2 separate regions of the Homo sapiens genome follow, and region 2 is linked to region 1. The links come from fine-mapping of genetic effects on gene expression. Tissue or cell type: lung. Region 1 holds a variant in brackets; the other region holds the start of a gene. All regions are shown on one strand. Distances are from middle to middle.

Region 1 (2,752 bases):
AGAGATGAGGTCTTGCTTTGTCACCCAGGCTGGAGCACGCAGTGGTGAGATCATAGCTCCCTGTAGCCTTGAACTCTGGGCTCAAGTGATCTTCCCACCTCAGCTTCCTGAGCAGCTGTGACTACAGGTACAGGCCACCATGCCTGGCTAATTTATTTATTTATTTATTTATTTATTTTGAGATGGAGTTTCGCTCTGTCCCCAGGCTGGAGTGCAGTGATGTGATCTCAGGACACTGCAACCTCTGCCTCCCGGGTTCAAGCGATTCTCCTGCCTCAGCCTCCCGAGTAGCTGAGATTACAGGCGCCCACCACCGTGCCCAGCTAATTTTTGTATTTTTAGTAGAGATGGGGTTTCACCATGTTGGCCAGGCTGGTCTTGAACTCCTGACCTCAGGTGATCCGCCCACCTCAGCCTCCCAAAGTGCTGGGATTACAGGCTTGAGCCACAGTGCCCAGCCTGCCCAGGCTGGTCTTGAATTCCTGGCTTCAAGCGATCCTCCTGCCTGGGTCCTTCAATAAATATTGACAAGCACCTCCCTGCTGCCAGGCTCTGCTGAGAGTACTTTAGGTACATTGGCAAACAAGACAGAACAATAACAAAAGAAAAAAACACCAGATTTTTTTAAATTCCCAGGCTCATGGAGCTTACATGCAAGCGGAGAAGATGGTCAATAAACCATCAATGTCATATGTCAACTGTAGAGTAGCTCAGGAGTGAGTGACAGGTGTGATGGTAGGCAGAGCAGGGGAAGAGGGTGCAGGGGGTCTAGCTGTAAACAGGATGCTGTAGGGTAGCCCTCATGATAAGGGGTGACATTTGGAACAAAGACTTGAAAAAGGTGAGGACAAGAGGCATGAGGCACCATGCCCGGCTGCACTTGTGTTTAATGAAAACTATGATGGCTGCTGTGTGACCTTAGGGGACTATATTAACCTCTCTGGGCCTCCATTTCTTGGAGCATGAAGTGGTCCTTTCACTACTCACTTCCTGAGGTTCTGGGAGAAGTCTAGGATCATGCATGTTCTTGGCATAGAGTTTCTGTACGGGTGGCTCCCCTCCTGGTGCCAGGCCCTTTCCTGGGATTGGAGGGGGATGGACAGAGGGAATTCAGAGGTTTAAGGAGGCTGTGGCCCCATCTCCTGGGGCAAGGAGGCTATTGGTCTAGAAGGTCTGCATTTAGAGGGTGACATCTGTGCTGGGAGCGGTGGCTCATGCCTGTAATCCCAGCACTTTGGGAGGCCGAGGTGGGCGGATCATGAGGTCAGGAGACCGAGACCATCCTGGCTAACACAGTGAAACCTCGTCTCTACTAAAAATACAAAAATTAGCCAGGCATGGTGGCATGCACCTGTAGTGCTAGCTACTAGGGAGGCTGAGGCAGGAGAATAGCTTGAACCCAGGAAGGCGGAGGTTGCAGTGAGCTGAGATCACACCACTACACTATAGCCTGGGCAACAGAGCAAGACTCCATCTCAAAAAAAATTAAAAAAAAGAGGGTGATATCTGACCTGTGT[C/G]GAGGTGGAAGGAGGAGATGGGAAAGGCACTCAGAGAGTGGAAAATGGGCGTGCCTGGAGCTGGTGTCTGCAGCAAGGAGGCCAGAGGAGGAGGCACTGGCCTAGGCTTTGACCTGAGGGCACTGAGGTGCCACAGGAGGGCTGGGAGCAGAGGAGGGGCAGCGGAGAAGACCTGGAGGAGGCTGAGTCGAGGGCCCACAGGGAGAGGAGAAGGCCTGAGGTGGGCAGGAATGCAGGGACAGAGAAGGAACCAGGACCCAGTAGTCCATGGAGGAGGGAGGCAGGAGGGCTGGGAAGTTGGGCCTTTAAGAGTTGCATGTCTGCTGGGCACGGTGGCTCATGCCTGGAATTCCAGCACTTTGGGAGGCTGAGGCAGGCAGATCACCTGAGGTCAGGAGTTTGAGACCAGCCTGGCCAACATGGTGAAACCCTATGTCTACTAAAAATACAAAAATCAGTTGGGCGTGACGACAGGCACCTGTAGTCCCAGCTAATCAGGAGTCTGAGGCAGGAGAATCGCTTGAACTTGGAAGGCGGAGGTTGCAGTGAGCCGAGATCGTGTCACTGTACTCCAGCCTGGTGACAGAGCAGGACTCCATCTCAAAAAAAAAAAAAAAAAAATTTACATGTCCAGGGGGCTTGCAGGCAGAACCATTCACCCTCCAGGAGGCTGAGTCATTCCCGGGGATCACCTGCCTGCTGTGGCCACCCACCCGGAGGAGCTCTGTCTGCTGTCCCTGTCCCTGGCCTCTCGCTGGCTTAATTGTCCCTTTCATTCCTCCACTCAAATCGAGCGATATCAGCACGCCAGGCCCTGGACGTGTTTTGTGGGAACAAACAGGCCTGTTTGTCTACGTCCCAGGCGTAGAGAAGTTCGTCCCGGGGCCAGATTTGTTTTACAAGGTGGACAGCAGGCACAGGGTACCTGTTTTAGGAATGCGAGAATGCAGCCACGTAGGCATGTGGGTGGGGGACAGGGGGGTCCTGGCTCTGCGCTCAGGCCCAGAGAGTGGCAGGGTCGGGGGACATTTCCAGGAGCGGGAACAGCAGCTCCAGGGGCCCAGAGGTAGGACTACTGCTCGGTGCATTTGGAGGTCTTGGCTGGACTGTGGCGTTCATGGGGAAGGAGGGACTGAGTCTACAGGGCTGAGAGGCCACCACAGCTTGGGTTCAAATCCCAGCTCTGTTCAGCTCTTGTGTGGCCACAGTCAAATCGCTTCCCTCCTTGAAGCTCC
Region 2 (2,752 bases), 20 kb before region 1:
GAATTACAGGCGTGAGCCATTGCACAGGCTTTCTTTTGGCATTTTTTTTTTTTTTTTGAGATGGAGTCTCTCTCTGTCGCCCAGGCTGCAGTGCAGTGATGTGATCTCAGCTCACTCCAACCTCCACCTCCCAGGTTCAAGCGATTCTCGTGTCTCAGCCTCCCAAGTAGCTGGGATTACAGGCACCTGCCACCACTGGTGGGGAGACTGGCTTCATGACTCCAGGACTCTGAGGGGTCAGGGACCAACAGCTGGGGAGGGCCAGGGTTTGGGGTGGGGGCAGAAGAGAAGAGAACACCGTCTATGCTGAGCTCACTGTGTACCAGATCCTCCACCAGCAGCTGAGAGTGTCTCCCTCAGTCCTCACAACAGCCCGATGGGTGCCATTCACAGATGGGGAAACTAAGGCAAGATGAGCCTATGAGCAAGATGGTTCCCGGCCCCACAGCTGGGAGGCACTGGAGCTGGGATTTGAACCAGGGCTGTGACCTTCAGACTCTCACGCCCAACCATATCTGGCAGTTGTCTCTCATATCTGTGTCTCTCCCTGTCCCTGACCTTTCTATGTATCTCTGTCTCTGCCCTCTGTATATCGCTGCTGGGTCTCTCAGGGTCTCTGACCCCTGTGTGTCTCTGTCTCCTCTGGGTGTCCGTGTGTCTCTGTCTCCGCCCTCCGTGTATCTCTGTTGCGTCTCTCAAGGTCTCTGGCCCCTGTGCATCTCAGTCCCCTCCTGGTCTCTGTCTCCCATGCCCTCTGCCCTCTCCCTTTCTCCCTGGCTCCCGCCCTGTCTGTGCTGCCGTGGTCCTGGCTGTGCCTCTGTCCCTGTGTCTGTTTCCAGGGTGCCCCTTACGCGTCAGCCCGTGAGGGCAAGTTTCTGTCTGCCCCTTCCCCAGCGGTGGCCTAGTGCTTGGAACAGCGCCTGGCAGACAGGAGATGCTCAGTAAATATTTCTCAAATGAATAAAGGAATGAATGAGTGAATGAATGAATGAATGAATGAACTCGCTGAGATGGGCGAGATCAGCGCCATTTCCCAAATGAGCAACGTGGGCTCCAGGTGGGTGCCCACAGGCCCAGAACTGCCAGCCCGGAAGGTTCTGGCGTGGGCTTGGCACTGACCCCCTGGACTCTGCCCCCAGCTGAGCACCAGACGCCAGGACGTGCCCATCACTGCTCCTCCCCGCCCTCAGAGCAGGGTGGCTCCCTCTGGCCTCTCCCCGCTGTTGGAGGCGTGGGTAGCAGCTGGGAGAACCGGCTGGGTGCTGCCCCTCCCCTTGGGCCGGGCACGGAGTAGGCACCTGGCGGGCTCCCCAGGTGGCAGACGCTGTCGCTGCGCACACCTGGCCTCTGTGCCGCCTGCTCCCTGCTCGTCCTCCCCTCCCCACCCTCACCCACCTGCCATGGACGGGCCCGCCGAGCCCCAGATCCCGGGCTTGTGGGACACCTATGAAGATGACATCTCGGAAATCAGGTGAGGCCCAGACCTGGGCAGGAGCCAGGAGATCCCAGGGAGGAGGTGGCTGTTTGGGGGAGCCGGGGACTGTGGCAAGGGTGGCCTCCAGCCACCCGCAGCCGCAGGCCTGGCCCAGACTTAGCTGGAGGGGCTGGGCTGGGCTGGGGCATCCAGTGTGGTGTATAGGTCCCTCCTGAGAAGGGAGTGAGGACCCGACCGTGTTGAGTCACCAGTGGGGATGCCTGGGGTGTCCCTGTCGCTCTCCGGGCCTCAGTTTTTCTGTCTGTCAAAGGGGCCCACAAGCCCTGTGTCTCCCTGATAGAGCAGTGGAAGAGAGCAGGCAGCTTGGTGCATAGTAGTTGCTCAGGAAACACAACAGCCTGTAGTACCCAGGACACCCCATGCAAGCCCTGAAATAACGGGGGTGCTTGGGGGTGAAATGGGAGAGACTGGGATGCTGCTGAGACCCCCAGAGGGAGAAGCTGTGTTCTAGGGCACTTGGGGCGGAGAGGGCAGGCTCTGGACTCTTCAGGTCTCCTAACAGTGGTTAGGGCAGAGCACTGCCCACTTCCATGAGCTCAGCGTGACTCCCTCTTCCTGGGGATGAGTCAGACACTTTGACAGTACCTGCTTTCCAGATGGGGAAACTGAGGCTGGGAGGGAACGCGACATGACCGCAATTACGCAGCTAGAAGCAAATCTGAACCCGGTCTGTCTCACGCCAGAGCCTGTGGTTTCTCCTGCTCCTCACAGCCTTGGTGATGTCCCCTTTACACCCCTCCCCGTGGCTCCATCTTTTAGGGGAGCGCAGAGGCCCAGAGAGGGCAGGCAGCCTGCCCCAGATCACACAGCAAACTGCTGAGACAATCTCCAACCCCTCGTATCTTGCACTCTTGCCAAGTGAGACCTTCCTGGCAGCCTGGGCCCCTCCAGCCACCGTGGGCTGTGAGGAGGGAGACAACCAAGACCTGTTCTCAGCCCAGTTGCCTCATTCCTTTCTTATTTTATTTTATTTTTTTGAAATGGAGTTTCGCTCTTGTTGCCCAGGCTGGAGTGCAATGGCACGATATCAGCTCACTGCAGCCTCCGCGTCCTGGGTTCAAGTGATTCTCCAGCCTCAGCTTCCCAAGTAACTGGGATTACAGGAGCCCGCCACCATGCCCGGCTAATTTTATTTTTGTATTTTTAGTAGAGAAAGGGTTTCACCATGTCGGCCAGGCTGTTCTTGAACTCCTTGCCTCAGGTGATCCACCTGCCTCGGCCTCCCAAAGTGCTGGGATTACAGGCGTGGGCCACCAC

What was found. PIP is the estimated chance that this variant, and not a neighbour inherited with it, causes the effect.
Region 2: SULT2B1 starts here. The variant in region 1 is fine-mapped to the expression of SULT2B1 in lung (TOPMed, PIP above 0.99). The same link has a PIP of 0.9 or more in thyroid.

What each region holds. Positions count from the first base shown.
Region 1 is chr19:48,571,037-48,573,788 of GRCh38, forward strand. All of the region lies in intron 1 of SULT2B1 (sulfotransferase family 2B member 1), which reads left to right. Among named protein-coding and RNA genes, the nearest start is that of SULT2B1, 20 kb to the left of the region's middle. The variant C/G (reference allele first, on the strand shown) is at 1,518.
Region 2 is chr19:48,550,853-48,553,604 of GRCh38, forward strand. It overlaps SULT2B1 (sulfotransferase family 2B member 1), which reads left to right and starts at 1,320. Exons shown (of 7, transcript NM_177973.2): 1 at 1,320-1,471. The coding sequence starts at 1,401. RefSeq lists an enhancer at 740-1,264.